Regions from separate parts of the Homo sapiens genome. Here regions 2 and 3 are each linked to region 1. Evidence: fine-mapped expression QTL. A gene starts in region 1. Each other region holds a variant in brackets. All regions are shown on one strand. Distances are between the middles of the regions.

What was found. PIP is the estimated chance that this variant, and not a neighbour inherited with it, causes the effect.
Region 2: its variant is fine-mapped to the expression of TUBAL3 in lung (TOPMed, PIP above 0.99).
Region 3: its variant is fine-mapped to the expression of TUBAL3 in hypothalamus (GTEx, PIP above 0.99).

What each region holds. Positions count from the first base shown.
Region 1 is chr10:5,402,242-5,407,877 of GRCh38, forward strand. It overlaps TUBAL3 (tubulin alpha like 3), which reads right to left and starts at 2,587. Exons shown (of 4, transcript NM_024803.3): 1 at 2,549-2,587. The coding sequence starts at 2,551.
Region 2 is chr10:5,477,209-5,482,844 of GRCh38, forward strand. No RefSeq gene overlaps it. Among named protein-coding and RNA genes, the nearest start is that of CALML5, 20 kb to the right of the region's middle. RefSeq lists a cis regulatory region at 2,232-3,060 and an enhancer at 2,914-2,963. The variant A/C (reference allele first, on the strand shown) is at 3,490.
Region 3 is chr10:5,291,117-5,296,458 of GRCh38, forward strand. No RefSeq gene overlaps it. Among named protein-coding and RNA genes, the nearest start is that of LINC02561, 23 kb to the left of the region's middle. RefSeq lists an enhancer at 71-1,270. The variant C/G (reference allele first, on the strand shown) is at 2,901.

The DNA.
Region 1 (5,636 bases):
ACTATTCTGTTAAACAGACAATGATCTACGTTTTTAAGAGAAGGAAAGAAAAAAAATGAGAAGGAAAGTAAAAGCTAAATTCTAAGAAATCTGAGGTGATAGCAATCGCTGTTCTTAATATTGGTGTGGTTTGATTGACTGTGGTGCTGAAACAAATCTATTTAGAGGGTCTTGTAGAATGAGACCCCCATGTCTTCTGCATCATCAGGACCCTTTGGGCTGTTTGACCAGATAAGCTGAGGGGAGCCCTGCCCTTGTTCATGGCTACACTGCCCTAAAGCCTGAGATTCAACTACTGAAAGACCTCAGGCCTCCTGTCAATCCCTCACCTGTGGTCTACACAGGGGTCCCCAACCCCCGGGCCACAGACCAGTACCAGTCTGTGCCCTGTTAGGAACTGGGCTTTACAGAAGGAGGTGAGCAGCAGGTGAGTGAGCATTACTGACTGAGCTCTGCCTCCTGTCGGATCAGCGGCAGCATTAGATTCTCATAGGGGCACTAACCCTATTGTGAACTGCGCATGCAAGGGATCTAGGTTGTGTGCTCCTTATGAGAATCTAACTAATGCCTGACGATCTGAGGTGGAACAGTTTCATCCAGAAACCATCCCCACTGCCGACTCCATGGAAAAATTGTGTCCCACAAAACTGGTTCCTGGTGCCAAAAAGTTGAGGACCACTGGTCTACACAGACCACTAGTCAGAGGAAAGTAAGGAGAGGGCTCTGGTCGGCCACACCCCTGCAATCTGACTTGGACTCTGTTCATGCTCAATGGCATCAAACCTTTGTACTTTGTCTCTGTGATTCACAAGGCATAACAGCCCTCTGCTTCATGACCAATTCAAGTTCACTACCTTAGTAGGGCTTCCATCTTGTTTATTTTCTGTGCAACTATCAGTCTCTCTAATTTAGAAAGCACTTCATTTAGGACAAACTAATATTCCACCTCTCAAGACAGCATATTCTGTTATAAACAGGCTTCGAATACCCCTTATCAGGCTTCAGATAACCTTAATCTTATTCCTCTCCCCTTCTGTCGGACTTAAAGTGCTGCAAATACATCAGCTGCTGTAATCTGATCAAAACTTGGCTCCTTAAATTTAAGTTAACATTTTAAAAGGAGAGGGTGAACGTTCATTGTTTCTACATCATTAAAACCTCTTACTTTGTAAAGTTTACATGTAGATTTCTCTGTCTTCTCCACTGGCTACCACCCAGTCCTGTGTTACAGTGACGAGTAAAATTCAGGTGTACATGTGGTATTTGTTCATAATAGTCACAGTAAAAATAATCACTAACATTAAAAAAAAAAAAGATTGTTCCTCTTCACGTGGTCTGTTCAAGTGACTCAGAAAGCAGAGTGATGCTGTTCTTTTTGAAATCAGCACGAATAGCCTGGACTAACAAGCATCCTTCGTCTTTGAAGGAGCTTAGCTTATAACATAACTCTGTCCAAGGGTGTAGAAGACTATCTTTGCCTTATTCTTCTCTTAGCCTCTCCCTTTTTTTCCAAATTCTCTATGAAAATATTAGTCACACTATAAAGTAGAAGACTATAAAATGTCCACTGAACGTCAACACTGATAAGTCATAGCACATTATTAAACGCTGCTATAAGGATTATTTGAATTACTAGAAAAGCATAACTCTCAGTTAAACTTTCAATTTTGAGGTCTTTGTAGATTGATATGCAGCTGTGAGAAATAACATAGGAAGATCCCTTGCATCCGTTACCCATTTCCCGCAGTGGAAACATCTTGCAAGACCATAATACAAAATCACACCCAGAATGTTGACAGTGATAAGATACAGAACATGCTATTATCACAAGTCTCTCTCATGTTGAAAGGCATAATTTTTAAAAGCAAAACAATTTAAAATTTTTTAAATGTTGGACAGAGAGACCAATGGGGTGAGAAATCAAAGATCAAGAAGCAGTTCGAAATGTTGCTTCCATTGAAGAATTAAAAATTCAAAGATACTGAAAAACTGGCACAGAAAAAAATAAAGGGCAAATGGATCTGAAAAGGTCATCCCAAAACAGAATTATTGTAAGTTATTCTATTCATTGTGGTGCCCAAAGAACTAAACTCAAGGGAGGGCAAAGAAGATGTCTGCGCACTTTACCCTGCCAGGCATTTATGAGGTTAGCCACGGTTACCTAAGTCTGAAGTCCTCAGAAACTCTTAACAGCCTAACGAAAAGTGAAGCAATGAATATCTACAGAAAAATCAGCACTCTGGGCCTAAAACAAAGGTGAAAACTAAAGGAAGGAAAGGTTTTTGCTTCAGTGCTTCAATTAATGGCAGTGAGCTACTGCAAATCAACTGAGCTTTACCTTGAAAGAAGCAACATTACAGAGGAATAGATTACAGCCTGTCCACATCTGCTCCCAACTCATCTACTTGGACATTGAAAGAAACAAATGTTTCTTTACAAATGTCTTCTCTTGCATTACAATTTTATTAAGAATTGTTTGCTGTGGGAAAAGGGCCAAATATGATTAGTAAAATTTCCTACAACAATGCATAGGCGTGTAGTCACTTACCATGCTGATGAGAACGTGCCCTTCCTGCCCTGTAGTAATGACTGAGGAGCCTCCCAGCTGAGCTTTATCACAGGGCCCGGAAATGACTCCACCTGAGGGCTGGAGCTTTCTTCACTTAAAGCAGTATAGCTTCTTTTTAGTTTTTTTAGTTATCTGGTCTCAGAGTAGCTGTGTTGGGCCTGAACAACCCGGGATAAAGTTTGTACACAGCTGCAGATGAACTACTGAGAGCTTATCCAAATCTGCGTCCAACTTATAACTATGTTGAAAAGAACATGTGTCTTTTAAAAATCACCCTTTTGGGTTAAGAATTTATTTAGCATTGGCAGAGAAAAGGAAGGAGTATGAGTAAAATTTTCTGCAACAGCAAAGTAGCTTTTTCTATTGCATGAGTACTATGTGAATATCTTCTTAAATAAATTTAAACAATCCCTGAATACATACAGCAAACCAAGACAGTGTCCTTTTTACATCTGTGTCCTATGCATGCCTCTCAACCACTACCACATCCAAACATATGGGAATTTTCTGTTTTTATTATTATTGTCTTTTGAACTTTTATATTATTATACATAATATATACTTATGTTATTATTTTTTATTAATTGCACTAAGATCAGATCACACATCTTAACTGAGTTCTCTCCTTATATATTTGCTAAAGCTTCCTTTATATTCTACTATATGGTCAATTTTTGAAAATATTCCATGAGTGTTGAAAAGAATGTGCATTCTACATTTGTTGGATGCAATATTTTAGATAGACCGATCATTCAATCAATCAATCTATTAAATCAAATGGATTTATTGTGTAGTCCAAATTTTACGTATCAATTATTTCAAAAGATGTATTAAAAGTTTTCATTATAATTGTGAATTTACCCATTATTTCTTTTTCTGTCAATTTTTCCTTTATACATTTTGAGGCCATGTTATGAAGAGCACATAAATTTTAAATTATTATATTTTCAAAAACTTTAACAATTTTTTATTTTTAAATTACCCTCCTTATATACATTAATTATTTTTACCTTAAAGTTTTTTTTTTTTTTTTTTTGAGATGCAGTCTTGCTCTGTCGTCCAGGTTGGAGTGCAATGGTGCGATCTCAACTCACTGCAACCTCCACCTCCCAGGTTCAAGCGATTCTTCTGCCTCAGCCTCTCAAGTAGCTGGGATTACAGGTGTGTGCCACTATTCCTAGCTAATTTTTTTGTATTTTTGATAGAGACAGGGTTTCACCATGTTGGCCAGGCTGGTCTTGATCTCCTGACCTCGTGATCTGCCCGCCTTGGCCTACCTTAAAGTTTTTATGATCAAATATTAATATTACTACTTTAATACAGTTTTTTGGTTCACATTTGAATGATGTATTTTCCCATCGTTTTACATTCTTAGAAACTTAAAACCTTTCCATATTCTCATATTTTGGATGTGTTCTTTGTATGCATGATATAACTGAATTTTTTTTCTATTTTTGTATTTGAATTGGAGAATTCAGCTCATTACATTTAATATAATAACTAATATAGTTGGGTTTAGATATAGAGTACTATTTTATTTTGTGCTTTCTGTTTGTCTCCATTTTCTAAGTTCTCTTTTCTTCCTGATCTTCTTTTGAATTAATGACATGTTTTGTTAGCATAGTAACAATTTTATTATTCAGTAATCAAAACAAAATTTCTGTTACTCAAGAATCTTGGTTTCTACCAATTCTTCCTTACAACTTTGAGAAAATGAAGAAACCATAGTGTTCTTCAGCAATTTTCTCCTGAACTTATTATAAATTATACTTTCTCTCATTTTGATCTTCATAAAGTCAATCCTATCTGTCTCTGTCAATAACTCCCCAAATGTTTAGCATCCTGGTAGTTCCATATAATGAAAAGAAAAATTAAGCCAGTTCCATTTTATAAAATCAGAATGATATTTATTTTGTTGCTGTATCAAATTTTCTCCCACTGGTCCCAGATATTTTCAGTTTGAAACAAGATGAGGGAAAAATCAGATAATGTGAGTATCTCATTTCTAGTCCACTGATGTACTCAGTATCTTTCATTAACTTTTAAAAATTGTCAGTCTGACATGGAGCTATGATTAACTTAGATTTACGTAGGAATTAGAAAGAAACTAGAAAAATCTCTTTTGTAGTATAATTTAAGAAATGCATCTTATCTTTTAGTAATTCCTTATTTCTTTGAAAGACTAAGTCTTAAAGAAAAAAGTTTCCTCAAGTGATAATAATTGGAATTTCACGTCTGAAGAGGCCTTCTGGGGTGATAGTTTTTGTGTCAACTTGGCTAGGCTGTGGCACCCAGTTATCCAATCTAACACTAGTCTGGGTATTGCTGTGCAGGCATTGTGGAGGTGTGGTGAACATCTCCAGTAAACTTTGACTTTAAGTAAAGGACATCATCCTCAATAATGTGAGTGGGCCTCATCCAATCAGTTGAAAGACCATAAGAGTAAAATGGAGATTTCTCTGAGGAAGAAATTTCTCCTAAGGATGGCACCTTTAGTTTCAGCTTTAGCTGTTACTCAGGAGTTTCCAGCCTGCCAGTCTGCCAGCCTGCCCTACTGATTCCAGACTTTACAGCCCCACAATCACACTAACTTATTCCTTAAAATAAATCACACACACAATACTGACTCTGACATACTTGGTGGCCACCCTTAGGTTCTGAGGGTGAAAAAATGGCAGAGTGATAAAAGTGTGGTATTTATAGTTACGATGTCCTTGTTCAAAGTTCCTTTCTTGGCCAGGCACAGTGGCTCATGCCTGTAATCGCAGCACTTTGGGAGGCCAAGGTGGGCAGATCACCTGAGGTCAGGAGTTCAAGACCAGCCTGGCCAATGTGGTGAAACCCCATCTCTACTAAAAATACAAAAAATTAGCCGGGTGTGGTGGCAGGCACCTGTAATACCAGCTACTCTGGAGGCTGAAGCAGGAGAATCACTTGAACCCTGGAGGCGGAGGTTACAGTGAACCAAGGTCACGCCATTGCACTCCAGCCTGGGCAACAAGAGCAAAACTCCATCTCAAAAAAAAAAAAAAGTTCCTTTCTTAAGTATTTTTCATTGTGAGCCAGT
Region 2 (5,636 bases), 75 kb after region 1:
ACCCCAGTCCCTCACCAAGTGACTGGGATGGAGACATGAGGATTACATGTCAAGGTGCCGTGGACAGAGATAGCAAATGGGGGCTTCAAATATCAGCCCCCAGTCAGAAGCTGCAACCCCAGTGCTCTGCTCAGAGCGGCTGTGATCCAGCTCCGACACCCACGGGGTGAAGTCATGGGGATTAACTGACTTAACTGTGCTGAGCAGTTCTCCCAGGAAAGGCCGGGAGGCTGCTCATCTTAAGTCCGTGTTCCAGATCTGAATTTAGGAATAAATTCATACTCAGAATTTTTGAAAACCTCTAGCAAAATGAATTTATACTAACCCATAACCACTTCTCTCTGGGTCCTTCTCATGTGACCTGATTTTTTTTAAGTGTTTCACTGCTGAAATGTTTGAAGTCCATGGAAATGGTAAATAGCATAACCAAAATGAAAGGAATTTACACGGATTTAAGAAAAGTTTCTCAGCTGCTCAGCTAACACCATGAGAGAAGGTATCAGCTGCTGGGACTGAAATATTTAAGCCAAGATGCCATCTCCCTGCACACTGGCGTGCGCGGCTGCCTGCAGGCTCTCCCTCTCCCACGTCCGTATCTCAGGTACCCCCTCATCCACGTGCCCCATTGACAAAGAGACGCTCTGTCCTTAGACGTGTTAATTTACTCAGCTAAGCACAGGCCTGGAAAACTGTCCAGTGAGCGAGTCCTGCCATCTGAGGATCCTTAGTCTCTAAGGACAGTCATTGCTCCCTTGTCCATCTGTCCTTTGGACCCCTCTGGGGAGCTCGTGCACCTCACCAAAGTCCCAGGTTCAAGTCCCAACCTGTGAGGCTCTGTGATCTTCTGCAGGTATCACCTGGTGGTCCCCAGGGGACCCCTAAACTCAGCTACCCCCTGCCCTGGGCCTGGGCAGGGCCTCCGCCGCCCCGCCCTGGGGGCCAGTCCTTGCTGCAGTCTCTGCAGAGAGGGCTCCACCAGAGCCAGAGTCACCTCTCAGCCGCTACGCTCCTGGCCTCTGTATGCAGGAAGCATACCCGGGCAGTAAGATGCAGAGAGAAAGGACCAGCCTTGGGAAAATCACTTGCCTTCCTGCACCCCCACATGAGACTTCTGTCTAGAGAGACTTCTGGGGCATAAAGGGGCTTCCAGAAGTGACTTAGTCCAAGCCCCTGCAGAGCCCACGCAGGTTTACCACATGACCTTCCTGGGCATCTACCCTGAATTCCTCCTGGACTTGTTTAAGTTTATCTCCGTTCTCCAGCTGTCCTAGACCACAAGGCCACTGAGTGCTCTCTCTTCTTTCCTTACCTCAGGACAGACGGCACCCACCTCTTCTAGTCTCCCTGCTCCTCTGCCTCCCTTTGGGTAGGCTGGAAATCTATGGGTCATGGACAAAACATGGCCCCCGCTCTTTTCTTGATAAGCAAAAGCAGTTTTGAGGCCTCAAAGAATTTTTGAAAACCTCTAGCAAAATGAATCACAAGATTTGGAAGCTGTATCTTCAGAAAGTCCGTTTTGTGGCTGGGGCCAGGTTTTTGCCTCTGGCATGGGTTGGGGGCTGTCCCCGGGACTTGATCAAGGGGTGGGAGGTAAGCGGTGCTGTGTCCTCTCCCAGGGGAGCCTCCTCACCAGGAGGTGTTGAGGAGCCAGGGCAGGGGGGCCGCCTGGCCTGCAGGACCAGAGCTAGGCCGCCGAGGGCCTCTCTCCCTCCACCTGCAACTGTCTATGGCCTCGGCTCCCCTGGAGCTGGGCAAGAGCCATCCATGAGAGCGTCTGGGTCGGTTAAGGTCCCTTTCTGTACCCTCGCGATTCTCCTCTGAGGCCTATGTCTCTGTCCGTCTCCTCCAGCCCCCTCACACCCTGGCTGCACTGCGTCCTTCTCTCCTGGAGGCCCCTGGCTGAGCCCCCCGCCGTGGTCTTGGCCTCTTCTCCAGGAACATGAGAGGCTGGGATTACATCGCGTTCCCACAGGCCCACTAATTTTGTGCCACTGCCACAGTTTTGCACTTTTTCATTCATTATCTACTCAATAGTTTCAAATCTACAGTTTCTGTCTTTAGTGAACGTAATTTAAATGAACACTTTATGTGATTATTCTAAATGGAAAACCAGCTTCCTTTGCTTTATATAGAAGGAAATGATAATAAGTATATACGGAAAACAAAATAATGTCAGTAAGCGCTGCCTGGGCCTCTCTGGCTCTGAGAAGGGTCTGCTGTCTCCTTTTCTGTTTCCCTCACAAGCCCTGAAATCCCTCAGACACCATCAGTGGCACATAGCAAAATTCTGGCAAACCCTTGGAGATCTCTGTGGTCCATTTCAAAGCTACTATTTTCACTATTCTTCTGTTTCTTTCTCCCCTCTCCTCCCCAGATGCCTTAGCTACTTCCCCGTGATAATTACAACACACCCACAAATACAATCCTCTGGTCTAAAAGTACCTGCTTAAAAAGACTTTTTATTTTCCAGCGCCCGCCCACAGCAAGGCACCAGGGTTGTGTTTTGGGAGAGATAAGGGGCTCTGTTTCCAACATCCCTCCCCACAGGCCCTGACAGATACCACGGTGGTTCCTGATAGGAAATCCCCTCTGCCTCATGGAAAACCCAGAGAAGGAAGCCGAGTGGCCTGGGTAGACTAGGCAGCCTCCACCCGAAGCTACAGAAATAAAAACAGCCCATCTTCTCGGGGCCCCAGGCCCCGAAGCCCAGGGCCCTGATGGGCGGGAGATGAGTGCCCCACTCACAGGGACCTGTCCTGCGAAGACACAGGTGCAGCCACGGCTGTCCCCTGCCACTGTGTCTGCACCACACTCCACCAACCACAGCTGTCCCCTGCCACGGCATGTGCACAGCACTACCCCAACCACTGCTGTCTCCTGCCACGGCGCCTGCACCACACTCCACCAACCACAGCTGTCCCCTGCCATGGTGCCTGCACCACACTCCACCAACCACAGCTGTCCCCTGCCACGGCACCTGCACCACACTCCACCAGGCCCAGAGTGGCCCTGACCCAGGACTGCGTGATAAAGCAGAGGAAGAAGTGTCCCTGTCTCCATTTTGCAAATGAGAAAACCATGTCCAAGAGGCTCTGCCCAACATGGAACCCAGGCACGTGTTTCCAATTCAAACACGCACAAAACACTTTGACCCCCTCTCGTACCTGTCATTCCTTCTTTCCCTTCAGCTTCTTCAAAGATGATGCCAAGTTCAAGGTCACGACAACTCCCCGTGACGGAGCCTCTGCTTCTTTCCCCACGTGGGTCCACGTGAGGCTCTGCCCCACCAATGCCCGGTGCCTTCTAGAACTCAGTAGCTCAGCTGTCCACTGCCACTCATGAAGCTGATCTGAGCCCCTCAGTGGGAAGGGCAGAGTCAGTCTGGTGAAGGCCCTCCCGCCTCACAGGGCGGTCCTGAGGCTTCCCCTCCTGGCAGTGGTTGGGCTGACCCCTCCTGCCTTCCCCTCCCTGGAGGGCCCCGAGGTCATC[A/C]CCTCCCATCTCCACCCACCCTATCCAACCCTGGGGTGGCAGGTCATGAGTGACAGCCCCAAGGACACCAAGGGATGAAGCTTCTCCTGTGCTGAGATCCTTCTCGGACTTTCTGAGAGGCCACGCAGAACAGGAGGCCCCATCTCCCGTTCTTACTCAGAAGCTGTCAGCAGGGCTGGGCTCAAGATGAACCCGTGGCCGGCCCCACTCCCCAGCTCTTGCTTCAGGGCCTCACGTTTCGCCCCCTGAGGCCTGGGGGCTCCGTCCTCACGGCTGGAGGGGCTCTCAGAACATCTGGTGGGCTCCGTCCTCACGGCTGGAGGGGCTCTCAGAACATCTGGTGGGCTCCGTCCTCACGGCTGGAGGGGCTCTCAGAACATCTGGTGGGCTCCGTCCTCACGGCTGGAGGGGCTCTCAGAACATCTGGTGCACGGCTCCCAACTCTCTTCCGGCCAAGGATCCCGTGTTCCTGAAATGTCTTTCTACCAAACACAGTTGCTGTGTAACCACTCATTTCATTTTCCTAATTTGTGTTGATCCAGGACACGGGAGGAGACCTGGGCAGCGGCGGACTCATTGCAGGTCGCTCTGCGGTGAGGACGCCACAGGCACCAGCGTGCTTCTCCTCAGGACATGCACTTGTAACAACATGTCTGGCCCTTTTTTACCCCCTTGTGTTGGTTTCCTACAACTATGTAGCAAGGTACCAAGACTGGGTGGCCTGAAACAGCAGAAATGTGTCGTTTCTCAGTTCTGGGGGCCAGAAGTCTGAGCCACAGGTGTGGGAATGTTAGGGGTGGCAAATATCCGAGTTACTGGCAAGTCGGCAAAAACCTCAATTCTTGCCTCCTCAGAAGAAAGGATTCAACAGAGGGGCATACGGCAGAAAAAGAGACCAAGGCAAATTTCAGAGCAGCGGTGGAAGTTTATTAAAAAGCTCTGGAGCAGGAAACAAAGGGAAGAACAACTGGAAGAGACCCAAGCGGACCCCTGGAAGGACGAGTGCAGCCTTTGACCTTTGGATTTGGGGCTGGAAACATTGGCATCCTTCCGGGGTCCCGTTCCTCTTCCGTGCTTTTTCCCTCAGGGTGGGCCGCCTGCACACGCGGTGCCCTCCTCAGCCCCGGGAGGCCAACACCGAGCCCTGAGTTTAGGAAGTGGTGGGTGTCCCTCCCTGAGACTTTCTTCCCTTTTCCAGTGGAGTGCCCTCAAAGGCCGTACTCCTCCGTTTTGTCTCTTAATGCCCATCCCCGAGCCTACTCGCCCCATTTCTGAGACTTTGTTGGAAGCCGATTACACATCTCGAGACTTTTTATCTGTTTGGGGAATCACCTCTCCCTGGAGCCTGTGATCAATGATTGTTTTTAGATAGGCGGTGGGATAACTGCTGAACTCTCACCCGATGATCCCCTGACATTCCTGGTGGGTGGCAGGGGAGCCCTCTGCTGCCCGGCTGGTGCCTGATTAACCACCTGCAACAGGCAGGGCCCTGAGGGAGAATCCCTCCACATCTCTCTGATCATCCAGGGCAGCCAGGACCCCTCCGTGCAGTCTCTGCCTCCGTCTTCACATGACCGCGGTCTCTGGGTCTCTGTGTTTGTGTCCCCTTCTCTTAGGACAACAGTCAGTGGATTTCCGGCCCACCCTAAATCCAGCTGATCTCCCCTCGAGATCCTTAATTACATCTGCAAAGACCCTATTTCTAAATAAGGGCCCATTCACATGACTGGGTGTTAGAGCCTGGACATACCCTTTTGGAGACCCCCTTCAACCCACGGCCCCCTCACCAGTGAACGGTAAGTTCTGCATGGACAGAGACCATTTCTGTCCTGTTCATATCACATCATCAGAGCCTTCGCAACAGTTATCCAAACACATTTACTGAATGAATGTGTACATTTAACTCAAAATACTGAAGTTTGACCTTTTTCTCCTCTGTAGTTTAAGATAAATTTCCACTCTACTTTCTAAAATACAGTAGATGACTATTTCTCTGGGAATCTAAGTATCAGAAGCATAAAAATAACAAAGTGGCTTTTAAAGGGACTCAAAATGAGACCCACCATGATATTCATGCCAACATCACAAATGACAGCAACATATCCTCAACTTTTGCTTATTTCTTCCCAAACATTTTATCCTAAATT
Region 3 (5,342 bases), 110 kb before region 1:
TTTCTCTAGTGGGGACCACCAGATAGGATGATGAGGGGATAAAGAATTTCTTCCCACCTTCTTGGTGATGTCTTTGTCCCTGTGTCACTCTCATTGAAGTAGCTCCCCAGTCCCTACTGTGTCTCTCCATCTCACTCCTCAGTTTTAGTTTCTTCAGAACAATTGTGATCAGAGCAATTGCCTGAATTATTCACACCAAGTGAGTTATTTATCAGAGGAATAAAGGATGTTTGAGCCATTCCATATCAAGTATCATCTTGTTTTAAAACATTTTGCTGGACAGAAAGAAAAGTCATTATTTACAGCAAAACTACAAAGAGTTGGATACAGCCCCAAAACTCTGATAGGAGATTTAACCATACAGAACAAGAGTTCAGCAAGGATGCTGCAATTCACGAGGAAAGGCTAACCCAGGGTTATGAGAGAAATGTTAACATTGCATGGCGATAAAATGCCAAATACCTTGCTGTGGTTTGAATGTGTCCCCCAAAGTCCATGTGTTGAAAGTATAATCCCCAGTGCAACAGTGTAAAGACGTGCCCTCTAAGAGGTCACTAGGTCATAACGGCCCTGCTGTCATGAAGCACTGACCTTATTATTGCGAAAACGGGTCCATTATCGTGAGAGTGGGTTTATTGCAAAAGTCATTTCAGCCCTCTCTTGTCTCTCATCCTCTTACCCCTGCGCTCGTGCCCCCTGCCTTCTGCCATGGGATGACACAGCACAAATGTCCTCACCAGATGTGGGGCCTGTGATCTGGGACTTTCAAGACTCCAAGACTGAGCCAAACAACTTTCTGTTTTTTATGAGTCACTCAGTCTCGGCTATTCTGTTACACAACAGGAAACAGACTAAGACACACCCATATAATCCTCTCTGAATAAATGGGAATCCATTGTCAAGCAACAAAGAGAAATGCTGCCCGACTCTCTGGGGAAACACACCTTACCCCTCTTTTACCACCCCCACATAAGTAGGGAGCCAAAAAGATCAGCTTTCAGAGTTCTCAAAATGCCTTCTGAAAAGTCTGGTTAAGACCACACCTTCTGACCGGGAGTCTGGTTCGTTAAGACTGCTGTGACAAAGTACTGTACACTGGGAGGGTTATAAACAAAAGACATAGATAGCTCACAGATCTGAAAGCTAAAAGTCCAAGATCAAGGTGCTGGCAGATTCAGGGTCTGGCGGGGGCCTGCATCCCGTGTCACAGACAGCTGTCCTCTCACTGTCCTCATGTGGCGAAACAGGCACGCAATCTCTCTGGGGGCTATTTTATCAGAAGCACTGGTATAGTTTGGACATTTGTCCCTTCCAAATCCCATGTTCAAGTTTGATCCCCATTGTTGGAGATGGAGTCTAATGGGAGGCTTGGGGGCCATGGGGTAGACGCCTCATGAAGAGATGAATGCCCTCCCAGGGGAGGGGGGTAAGGTCTTACTCTATTAGTTCCCATGAGAGCTAGTTGTTAAAAAGAACCTGGCCCCTCCCCTCCTTCCTGCTTCCTGTCTCACCACACGATCTCCGCACACACCAGCTCCCCTTCACCTTCTTCCACACTTGGAAGCAGCCTGAGGCCCTCACCAGAAGCCCAGTCCTGAAACTTCCAGCCAGCAGAACTGTGAGCTGAATAAACTTCTTTTCTCTATAAATTACCCAGCTTCAAGTCCTCCTTTATAGCAACAATAAATGGACTAAGAGGGGCTCTAATCCCATTCATGAGGGTTCCACCCTCACGACCTAATCACCTCCACAGGACCCACCACCAAATAGCATCACCTTGGGGGTTAAGGCTTCATATACGACTTTGGTGGGGATGTAAAGATTCCATTCATTGCACAGGGCAAAGGGAGGCCATAGCAGCAGGGTCATAGTGTTCTGGGGCTGCTCACTGCCCCTCACTCCCAGGCCTGCCCCACCCCAGCCAAGGCCTTCATGCTGCTCTGGGCTACCTCTCCCAGGTCCTGCATCCCAAGCAAAGGTACAGACTCAATTGAGATCTCCTGAGACTCACTCCCTGCCCCTGCAACAAGATGGACATGTCCTTGTCAAGTTCTTCTCTAGGAAAATGTGGGCATCACATAGAGACTCGTACCTACCTGTGCAGAGGTTTTCCAGAGCCTCGATCACCCCCTCTGTCTCATCATTGGTTTCTGGCTTCAGTCTCACCTTCTTGGTGATGTCTTTGTCCCTGTGTCATTCTAATCAAAGTAGCTCCCCAGTCCCCACTGTGTCTCTCCATCTTACTCCTCAGTTTTAGTTCCTTCAGAACAATTGTGACCAGAGCAATTGCCTGAATTATTCACTTATTTTGTGGTATGTTTTCATATTTATTGACTGATTTCTCCAACACTAATCACCACACCTAGAAAAGCTCCCTAGTATGTGGTCAGTGCTCAATAAATATTTGCGGAATGAATGAAATTGAGTTCTAAGCATAGGCACAGTGGGGTTTTTTTTTTTTTTAAGTTTTTCTGTGCTCTGTTCTTATTTTCTGTGATCTGCAAACTATCTCTAAATCCTTATGAAAGATTGCGTCCAACACTGTTTTTTGCAGTGGGAAATTGAGAGGCCCATGTTGCACTCAAACAGAGCAGCAAAGCATTCGTCATCCCTCCCCTCAGGGCTGGGACTAACAGCAGGGCCTTCCTCAGCAGAGTACAGCTATGCCCAGCTGAGTGACAAATGCTCTAGTCAGAGAACACAGCAGCACAGGAGGCCAGCATGGTGGCCACAGGGGGAGTTCACGCGTGGCCGCTTGTGGACAGGTGCAGGGTGGCAGCCCTGAGGAGGTTCAGAACACCAGGGGCATCTTGAGGTAACAGCATCAGTCATGAACCAGGATATAAAAATCCATGCTGCTTATTTAAACAGGATGTGTAATCAGACGGTTGGAGTATCTA[C/G]AAAGAAGCCAGTCAGGAAACAATAAAGCAACCCAGAGGCTTTTAAACACAGGAAGTCGCTACCCTCCTAGGCTAGAGAAACAGAGGTAGCAGTGCTGGAGGCAGAGCCCGGGGTCCCTGGAAGAAGCAGCAGCCATGGAGGGCCTGAGGGAGGCAGCCAGGACGACTGGAGGGATGGAAGCTGCTGCTGTGTCCCCTAGAGAAGGGAAGAAAGGCACCTGGACTCCAGCTTCCCTTTCTGCTCTCAGCAGCGCCTCACAGTGGCCAAGTCCAGCTGGAAGGCAGCAGGCAGAGAGGGCAGCACCCAGGGCAGAAGAGGCCGCTCTCCTGGGCTACAGCAGAGCAGGAGAGGGAGGAGGAGGGGCACTGAGCAGACAGGAGTGTCAGTCAATCAGGCTGACCCTGGCCCCGCATCCTCAACGGGATGTTAATGAAATACCGCCTTCTTCTGTAGTTCAGGCTGATGGGGCAGGAATGCTGGGTTATGTAAGTGTCGCAGTGTTCACTGAGGGGGATAACACGAAAAACTTATTTGTTCCTGGGAAAATTTCTTAAATCTCATTAAGGCTTCTTAAGCATTCACAAGATTAAAGCCACCTTTGCCAGAGGTTAGGATTAATAGGTGGGGCTAAATAGCCTACCTGAAATTCAGTTCCAGAAATATTTACTGAGTATCTTTTATGTGCAACTGTTCCTAGGTTTTGTTTGTTTGTTTGTTTGTTTGTTTGAGACAGAGTCTCGCTCTGTCGCCCAGGCTGGAGTGCAGTGGCGCGATCTCGGCTCACTGCAAGCTCCGCCTCCTGGGTTCACGCCATTCTCCTGCCTCAGCCTCCCGAGTAGCTGGGTGGGACTACAGGCGCCCGCCACCACACCCGGCTAATTTTTTTGTATTTTTAGTAAAGACGGGGTTTCACTGTGTTAGCCAGGATGGTCTCGATCTCCTGATCTCATGATCCGCCCACCTCAGCCTCCCAAGGTGCTGGGATTACAGGCGTGAGCCACCGCGCCCGGCCCCTAGTATTTTTTTTTAAATCAGGCATGTAAGAATAAGTCCAAGAGTTCCACATTCAATTTTGTGAGGCTATATCTTCACATGTTCCCTTGGGCTGGGACTAAAACAACAGCCTTCCTTGAAACTAGGACGTGGGAGTGATGGTACTAGGGCAATTGCATCATGATGAAAGAATACCCGAGACTGGGTAATTGATAAAGAAAAGGGGTTCAATTGGCCCATGGTCTGCAGGCTGGACATGAAGCATGGTGCTGGCATCTGCTTCTGGGGAGGGCCACAGGGAGCTTACAGTGACAGCGGAAGGTAAGGGGGGAGCCCGTGTCTCACACCACAGGAGTAGGAGCAAGAGAGAGCAAGGGGGGACAATGCCACACTTTACACAACCGGATCTCCAGAAACTCACAGCGAGAATGAACTCATCACAAGGGGATGGTGCTGAACCATTCGTGAGTGATCCAGTCCATGATCCAATCACCTCCCACCAGGCCCTGCCTTCAGCACTGGGGATTACATTTCTGCATGGGATTTGGAGTGCACAAATATCCAAACCATATCAGTACTTTTTGCTGAATTTTGAGCCTCTGGTCCCAGGGGTAAACACCTTCCCAAACTGTGACCAAGAAGACGAAGGAAGGGTTTCCTATCTCTCTGGGGCATGGATTACACCAGGGAAAAACATCAGGTGTTTGAATGCCAATGGCTCTGCCATTTGTAGATTGTAACACATGATCAGAAGAATGCAACAGATTGAATATCCAGCTTTGCTAAGGTTGCAGAGTTTGGTCTGAGCTAGGAGTCCACATTCTTCACCAAGGTCTTCCTCAGAATCTATGTCATGGGACCTGTGCTTGCTGAAGGGAGATAAGCCACAGCTGAAGGCACTCCAACTTCAGAGAACACAGCTCCCTTTAATACGGAAAAGCTTGCTGCTATCAGCACCCCAAGTTTTCTCCTCTCCCAGCCTTGGGTTCTCTACATGCATGCACTGCAGGAAAAGAGGAGGTACTCAGCATTCAAAAGAGCAGTCAGGAATAATGGCCATTATGAAGAATAGTTGGAGGTTCCTCAAAAAGCTAAAAATAAAACTACCACTTGATCCAGCAATCCCACTACTGGGTATGTATCCAGAGAAAATGAAATCAGTATGTCAGAGAGATATCTGCACTCCACAGCAGCCAAGATATGGAACCAACCTGAGTGTTGATGAACAGATGAATGCATAAAGAAAATGTGTTATATATACACCATGGAATATTATATTGCTTCTTTTTCAACCAATTTGTTATTGGTGTATGGAAATGCAACTGAGTTTTGTATGTTGAGTTGGCATTCAGCACCTAATTCCCCAGCTTCCTTCTCCTGTTGCAGAGCCTCAGGTTGGCATACCAAAATAACATATCACCCTGAGTCCCGGAATGTCCACCTAGAGC